2 separate regions of the Homo sapiens genome follow, and region 2 is linked to region 1. Evidence: fine-mapped expression QTL. A gene starts in region 1. The other region holds a variant in brackets. All regions are shown on one strand. Distances are from middle to middle. Region 1 holds the start of DCAF8-DT (DCAF8 divergent transcript). Region 2 overlaps CASQ1 (calsequestrin 1).

The links. PIP is the estimated chance that this variant, and not a neighbour inherited with it, causes the effect.
Region 2: its variant is the best candidate, but not a certain one, in a credible set for the expression of DCAF8-DT in whole blood (INTERVAL, PIP 0.65).

What each region holds. Positions count from the first base shown.
Region 1 is chr1:160,259,968-160,264,216 of GRCh38, forward strand. It overlaps DCAF8-DT (DCAF8 divergent transcript), which reads left to right and starts at 1,782. Exons shown (of 2, transcript NR_147618.1): 1 at 1,782-1,955; 2 at 2,434-2,811. DCAF8 (DDB1 and CUL4 associated factor 8) reads right to left here and starts at 2,582. Exons shown (of 14, transcript NM_015726.4): 1 at 2,482-2,582; 2 at 1,318-1,391. RefSeq lists enhancers at 1,517-2,465, 1,637-1,766, 2,397-2,666.
Region 2 is chr1:160,195,739-160,199,987 of GRCh38, forward strand. It overlaps CASQ1 (calsequestrin 1), which reads left to right. Exons shown (of 11, transcript NM_001231.5): 6 at 159-289; 7 at 1,831-1,876; 8 at 2,939-2,993; 9 at 3,215-3,315; 10 at 4,113-4,187. Among named protein-coding and RNA genes, the nearest start is that of CASQ1, 7.3 kb to the left of the region's middle. The variant T/C (reference allele first, on the strand shown) is at 2,051.

The DNA.
Region 1 (4,249 bases):
TAAGCTGACCAATTAAAAATCAGTTGGGAAAATTAACCAGAAAAATGTGTTCTAAGGCAAAATGTAAAAGAAGCATAAATTAACGTATAACTTATTCAAAGCTGTATCAATGATGTGCAAAAAAAAAAAACCAAAAAACAACATTTTTTGAGTGTGTACCACGTGTTCTTAGATTACTAAGAGCTTTAAATAGATTCCCTATAATACTAACAATGACCCTGGGAGGTAAGTGGTATTATCACACTTTTAGAGTTGTGGAAATTAAGAGTCAGAGAAGTTTAAGTAACTTGCTCAAGGTCACATGGCTAAGAAATATTAGTCTAGTATTTAAACCTTAAAATTAAATTAAAAGTCTGTCCAATCTCTAAAGACTGTACTTTTCTCTTTATATCTTACTGATACACATATACACCATCACTAATAATTTTATTCCAGTCCATGATGAGCATTTTCTAATTCAGTCATCAGATGGAATAAAACTCACCAGTGTCACTCAATATTTTCCTACTACAAATCATAAAGATATTAGGAATTGGCCAGGCCTACCTTCCAGTCACTTAGCTTTTCTGTCACATGCCATGAGCCTCTAGTCTCTGCTACCAGAAACCTGAAAGCCTCACGAAAACTGCATTTATAAGTATGTTCTGACTCCCTTTTTGGCACCAACCCATGCTGCTGAATGCCCAGGATGTTTCTTCTGCTAACCAAGAATTCTTCAGACCAGCTACAAAAGAAAGAGCAGCCACTATTTTTTTTTTTTTTTTACAAAAAATTTCCCACTATATCCTAAAAAGTCGGAATTCTGAAATAGACTGGACTCAGACACCAACTAAAGGCAGCATCACTCATCACTCCCCAGCTTTTAGTCACAAGCAGCTAAATATTCTCCTCTAAATACCAAGGGATGACAACCCGAAGCTGTGAGAGGGGAAGAGACCTGATTTGACAACAGGATGAACAGAACTCAGGCAAACTAAGTTCCAGTTTTTAACAACGTAAAAAATATGATCGACACAAAGACAAAATACAAGGAAAATGAATAAAGAAGAAAAGAAGACATGGGGCAGGGGGCACACATTCACTTCTAGGCTTAAGTCATTTGGAGATACACAGCAATAGTTTAGGACAGAAAGACAAGAAGCCCACAGACAATTAAACTTGTAAAAGTAATTCAACCAGAGCTGGAACAAAGCCAAGAACAACACTCAAGCTCTTTGGGAAACTGGTAGGAATTTTATGACTTTAGTGGTCAGCAGTTGAGCATCAGCGCAGTCTGTCTTGAACTCAAGAATTTTAATGCCTCCAACTCCCACTCACCTTTCCTCCTTTTATCACTGAAGTAAGGCCAGGCTGAGCTCCTGAGAAAATAGGTCTGTAGATTCACTGAAGGACTGAGAAAAGTTAAAATTTACATGGCAAAGGTGTGTCTTCTACTGAACATAATAAAAATATTTATGAATACACTTTAGTATTTTTAGGCCTTCTCAAAACTACTTAAAAGCAGAATACTTTATCTAATTCTAATTACTGAACAAATAACCCACACACATATGGAAATAAAATGAACCAACATGAAGATTAGAAGCCAGGCAAGTAATCTCCCAGCTCCACTAAAACGTAAAGTCATTTAAAAGGATAACCTGAATCTTTTCAACGCTAAACCATAACCAAACAACCTCTCAACAAGAAGCCACAGAGCAGGGGGGGAAATCCCGGAGAGAATGTGATAGCGCTAGTGCCGGTTTGTTTACAGAGACTCCAGTAACAATCATGAGTCAGAAATTCAAGCCACCAGATGCTTTCCAACTAACAGGGACCAAATGGGACCGTTCTAAGATATCCTAAAAGATTTGGGAGTTAGAGGAGGTAAACTAAGATAATTATATTACAAAGGGTACAAGACCACAAGACAACAACCGACTCCGGAATTCTTGGACCTCCGCCTTCCGTACAAGGTGCTGGGCCTGGGAACTTGGGATGGGGGAGGGGGACACATTGCGCGGTGGCCCTGAGGTGACGGGGAGACGCAGGGCGAGCCGTGTCCCTCAATCTAAGGGGAGAAATAGGAGCGCACACATGGGTCACCCAACGAAGCAAGGCGTCCCTGTGAACTGTGCGGCTGGCTCTTGGGGGCAACACCAGGGCTGACCTGAGGAAAGGGCAACCAGTACTCCCAGCGATGACTTCGGGTCGGCGGAAGGAAAAGACCTGAGCGCTAAGAGCTTGGGATACGGGTCAGGCCCATCCTTAGGGGAAACCGGCTGGGAAGCGAGGGGGGGCGCAGGCCGAGCCGGAACGAGACACAGACCGGGTAGGTCAAGGGAGGGGGGGTGTCCGGCTGGGGCAGTTACAAGCACGGGAATCGGCGAGGCTCAGCAGCCCGCTTCCCGTCTTGGGTCATCCTTCTGCTAGCGGCTGCTCCGACTGTTCCAGGCCCAGCCGCCCCGTCCACTGCCACCACCAACGCCGCCGCCATCTTACACTGGCCAGCGGCCGCCACCACCACCGCCTCCGCTCTCTGCGCTTGCGCCTGCGCTGCCACGCTTTCCGGCCCCGTTTGCGACGATGTGCTCGAGAAGACTGAGGGAAGAGTGGTCGCGCGAGCTCACGGCTCGCAACCCTCCTCGAAGGACGCACAAGGGGCGGGGCTTAAGGCCAACGGAAAACAGAGCGAGAGGCGCCTGCGCATTACCGAAGAGGCAAAGTTGTTTTTGTAGTTTCTTCGGGCTTGCTTATCTTGTGATACTCTAAACAAATGCGAGTTAGGGGCTACCCAGAGTTGTGATAGAAATAAACTAAATTTCCAGCGGATTGGCAGGCCACTTCCTGGATGATGGCCAGTTTTGCCGTTTTTGAACACTGGAACGAGCAATGATTGCCACAAGGATTTCTTCTGAAAATCCCCGTTTCCTTTCAGGGCTTTGTTTCCTTAAGTGGTTTCTATACTATCGAGGCCCATTTTCCCCTGAGAGTCCCCATTTACGTATTTTTAAAGAAGGGGCTCAGTAGCTTGAGGTGTAGCTATTCCAGAAGCTCTTTTCTGAAGAGAGGTGGTGTGGGTAAAGGTTCCCAAGAGTGGGCCGGGTGATGTGGGGTGACTTTTGTACTCTGTTTCGTTATGACACCTACAGTAACCCTGCAGAGGATTACTCCCAGCTGCCAGGCTGGGGTATTTTTTTTTTTTTTCTTACCAGAAGCCCAGGGTGCAAAAATCTGACCCTTTCTCACCTCCCCTACCGCTACTCTCCTATTCCAAGTCATTACATATTACTTAAGACTACCGCAATAGAAACTTACCTCGTTTGTCTACTTCCATTATTGCCATTACAGTTAAACATAAGGCAGCCAGAGTGCTTTTTAAAAATGTAAGGTCTGGCCGGGCGCGGTGGCTCATGCCTGTAATCCTAGCACTTTGGGAGGCGGATGTGGGCGGATCACTTGAGGTCAGGAGTTCGAAACTCGTTTGAAACCAGGCCAACATGGTGAAACCCGTCTCTACGAAAAATACAAAAAAAAAAAAAAATTACCCGGCATGGTGGAGCGCGCCTGCAATCCCAGCTACTTGGGAGGCTGAGGCAGGAGAATTGCTTGAACCCGGAGGCGGAGGTTGCAGTGAGCTGAGATCGCACCACTGCACTCCAGGCTGGGCAATGGAATGAGACTCCGTCTCAAAAAAAAAGTAATGTCGTATTATTTCCCCAGTCCCCACCCTGCTCAAAACCTCCAATTCCCATCACATAATAAAAGTCAAAAGTATGATAGCCTTAGAGGCCATCAAAAAATGAATTGCCTCTAAGGAGGACCCTACATGATCTGATCTAGCACCTGCCTATTTATCTGATTCATCTCCTCCCACACTGCCTAGCTCTGCTCTAGCCTCACTAGCCTTACTGTCACTCCAGTCAAAGCATGTCCCAGCCCTAGGGTTTTTTTCCTTTTCTTGGAATGTCCATCTACTAGATATTTACTAGACTTGAGGTGTCTATTGAAATCCTACTTCCTAACACAGGCAGCTCTTGACTATTGTAACTAAAATGGAACCTCATGTCATCCTCCTCTATCCCCTTACTCTGCACTGTTTTTTTAATAACATTTTTTACCTATAACATTTAATCTAAAATTATGTTTGTGATCCAGCTATACTACTAGAATATAAATTCTTGAGGGCAAGGACTGTGTTTTTATCATCTTTGTAATCTCAACACCTAGAAGAGGGCTACAGCACAAAGTAGCTATTTAATGCCCCACC
Region 2 (4,249 bases), 64 kb before region 1:
ACCCCAGGCAAGTTAAGACACTTGTCAGGTGTCACAGTGGCAGTGACAAGGATCCCGGCTTTCTGACTCCCTTCCTAATATTTGTTCCCCCATTATACTGCTTCTCGACATGACCCTGTGTCTCCTGCTCCACTCCCCTCCTACCCCCTCTCCCAAAGGTGGCAAAGAAGCTGACCCTGAAGCTGAATGAGATTGATTTCTACGAGGCCTTCATGGAAGAGCCTGTGACCATCCCAGACAAGCCCAATAGCGAAGAGGAGATTGTCAACTTCGTGGAGGAGCACAGGAGGTGGGGACCAAGGGCAACCCTCTCAGCGGGGTCGGCTCCTCCTTGGGCTAGAACACACTGTGTGAGATGGGCTGGGGAAAGCTTAGCCAACCGGGAAGCCAATCTTGCCTGGAGATGAATACACTTTGGGCACCAGTGCTCTCTGATACACTGACAATTTTGCACAATATTTTATACCCCACTACTTAGCCCTGAGCCCTACACCGAGAGGGTCCTTCATAAGTGTGTATAATTCAGTGTGAGGTTGATTGAGACTTAAATAATCTCTGTCAACAAATGAGTGTTGACTGCCTGTGGTGGGGCAGGAACTGCAAGGTACTTTCCATCTCTATGATTATATTAAGTCCTTTTAACCTCAGTGAAAGTTTCTACAGGTAATAAGTGTCAGAGCTTTTAACCCTGATTTTAACCCTGATGTGTCCCATGTTTGTTCTTTTTTTCTTCTTCTTCTTTTTTTTTTTTTCTTCCGAGACCGAGTCTTACTCTATCCCCTAGGCTGGAGCACAGTGGCGCCATCTTGGCTCACTGCAGCCTCCGCCTCCCAGGTTCAAGCGATTCTCCTTCCTCAGCCTCCCAGGTAGCTGGAATTACAGGCACGCCACCACACCTGGCTAATTTTTGTATTTTTAGTAGAGATGGGGTTTCACCACGTTGGCCTGGCTGGTCTCAAACTCCTGACCTCAAGTGATGCGCCTGCCTCGGTCTCCCAAAGTGCTGGGATTACAGGCATGAGCCACTGCGCCTGGCCCCATGTTCTTTCTAATACAATATCGTACACCAATGGTTCTCTACAAGGTGGGAAGGCGTGGCGAGGTGGGCATAGGTTTTTGCCCTCCAAAGGATGTTTGGCAATGTCTAGACACATTTTTGGTTGTGCAGAGTGCTACTAGTATTTAGTGGCTAGAGCCCAGGGATACTGCTAAACATTCTACAGTGCGCAGGACAGCCCCCTACTACAAAGAATTATCTGGCTCCAAATGGCAATAGTGCTGAGGTTGAATAATCCTGCCGGGCACTCACACATAATTCCCTTCCTTCATAGTAGTCCACAGCTGGAAATATCCAATCACTCTGTCCCCCAGGCTAGCGTGCAGTGGTGGATCACTGCAAGCTCCCTTGCAGTATATACAGTACTTACTCTCCCATACTACTGGCTCCCTTCATCAAGGCAGGAACATGCTTGCCTGGTTCAACTGTATGTACCCAGCACCTAGCATAGTGCTTAGAACATATCGGGCACTCAATCATAGTGAGTGAGTGAATGAATGAATAAATTAATGAATATCCTGATGTCCAGTTCTTGCCTTTCTCCCCCAGTCTCTCTTCCAGTCCCTTTGCCCACCCTCCCCTCTCCCACCGCTTTAACCATGCAATGAGCCGGGCCTGGTGCCCAGAGTTGAGGCCTTGCCAGATGGCTTTGTTGTAGGCTACAAGCTGTCTGTGCCCTGGGCCTGACCTAGAGGCAGCCTTTGCTACAGGACCCTCTGGAGGGGGCATCCTTCTAACCCACTGAGTAATGACACTCTGTCTGTCTCTTCTAGATCAACCCTGAGGAAACTGAAGCCGGAGAGTATGTATGAGACCTGGGTGAGTGCCCCTGGCCAGGGTCAAGCCCTCAGGGAAGCATGGGTGCCAGAAGACTCAAGTCCTAGAAAAACCCCACCCTACTGCTCCTCAGGCCCATTTTTAGAAAAAACAGTGCACTGACCAGCTGGGTGTGGTGGCTCATGCCTGTAATCCCAGCACTTTGGGAGGCCAAGG[T/C]GGGTGGATCACGAGGTCAGGAGATCGAGACCATCCTGGCTAACACAGTGAAACCCCATCTCTACTGAAAATACAAAAAAAATAGCAGGGTGTGGTGGCGGGCGCCTGTAGTCCCAGCTACTTGGGAGGCTGAGGCAGGAGAATGGCTTGAACCCAGGAGGCGGAGCTTGCAGTGATCCGCCACTGCACACCAGCCTGGGGGACAGAGTGAGACTCCGTCTCAAAAAAAAAGAAAAAAGAAAAAACAGTGCACTAGCAGCAACTGAAAGATTTCTACACTGAAGAATGTGTGAGGAAATGGGAGACAGACATAATTGAAGATGACAAGGGAAGAGCCTCAAGCCTGGGGATAAAGGGATTATCAGAGGAAGTGTGGGGCCTTGGAGCTGAAAGGAGTGTCACTTGGAAAAAGGTCACCATCACAAGAATATATATGGCCAGGCGCAGTGGCTCACGCCTGTAATCCCAGCACTTTGGGAGGCTGAGGCAGGCAGATCATCTGAGGTCAGGAGTTTGAGACCAGCCCGATCAACAAGGTGAAACAATGTTGTACTAAAAATACAAAATTAGCCAGGTGTGGTGGCGCATGGCTGTAATCCCAGCTACTCAGGAGGCTGAGGCAGGAGAATCGCTTGAACCCGGGAGGCGGAGGTTGCAGTGAGCCGAGATCGCGCCATTGCACTCTACCCTGGGGGACAGAGTGAAACTCTGTCTCAAAAACAAAAAAAAACAAACCCCAAAAAACGAAAGAATATATCTGGTCCTGAAGCTGGATTTCCACAAAATTGAGGTTCAATGAACATCTAGGATCTGTTCTGGGCTCCTCAACTTCAGGGAGTATAGTAAGGTCTTCTCCAAAACCCTGTTCTCCTTCTTACCCCCTGACAGGAGGATGATATGGATGGAATCCACATTGTGGCCTTCGCAGAGGAAGCTGATCCTGGTGAGGGAGGAATACCGGGTTGGACTGGAGGGAAGGCAGGGGGAGGTGGGTGTGTTTATTGGAGCATGGGCCTCACTAGGAGGCTTTCCTGGGAGTTTGCAAACAGCCTAGGGCTAGACATGTGAAGCTTGGGGAGCAGGGAGGTAGCTCTGCACTCCTGTTTCACCTGGGTCCCTTTCCTCTCTACACACCTCATACCTTGTACTTGTGTTCCCTCCAAGATGGTTTCGAGTTCTTAGAGACTCTCAAGGCTGTGGCCCAAGATAACACTGAAAACCCAGATCTTAGCATCATCTGGATTGACCCTGATGACTTCCCCCTGGTAAGAGGCACAGCTCAGGCACTGCTATCTTAAGGTGGGGCCTTGGACTGTGACATCTTCTTAGTGAGGGCTTTGTTTCAGAGGTCCCATCCCCACCTCCTAGCTGGGGGGCCCTGGGAGGGTATGCGTGTTGCATGCTTAAGGGCACTGTTGGCATGGAGGGCATCCTGAGCAAGGGGAAACAGGACGGACATCACACACATTCCCAGAGCAGAGGCTGGATGGGTAGCTCAGGTGCTAGGGCTGACTCCTAAAGAAAACCAATGTTGTGAGGCACAATAGTCCTGCACATGGGTATACACACTCAATCATAGAATCATAGCACAGAGATTCCCTGTTTCAGGAGATGATTTTGTTCTCAGCTACATTCCCAACACCTAGCACTCGCTGTTGAATGAGTAACTGAAAGAACAAAGAGAAACGTGAGAAACATTGGCACTTACCAGGTATACTTGCCTTATTTTAGAAATGTAAGATCTGAGGGCCAGAGAGAAGTGACTTGACCTTGAACACAAGGATCTGATCCAGGATCAGAACAGGGTTTCCTATCCAGTTTTCCTCAGAAAAGAGGGGCCAGTGCACCCAGCTGACCCTCCCGATTCTCTCCCTTTAGGATTTCTCCTCTTTTGTTGTTTAGTTCTACCCTTGCCTTGATGCCCTCACAGGTGGACCTGTCCCCATCCACTGCCAGTTCGCACTGTCCCCTCTCCATCCCTGGGCTGACCCTCACACTCATCCTCCTGGATTCATGTGCTCCCTAGTATCTATTAAGTTGCTGTATTTTGATCTCTCTACAGCTGGTCCCATACTGGGAGAAGACGTTTGACATCGACTTGTCAGCCCCACAAATAGGAGTCGTCAATGTTACTGATGTGAGTTTCCTGTCCTCATCCCGGGTTGACCCCCGACTCTACTTCCTAGCATAGCTAGCTCT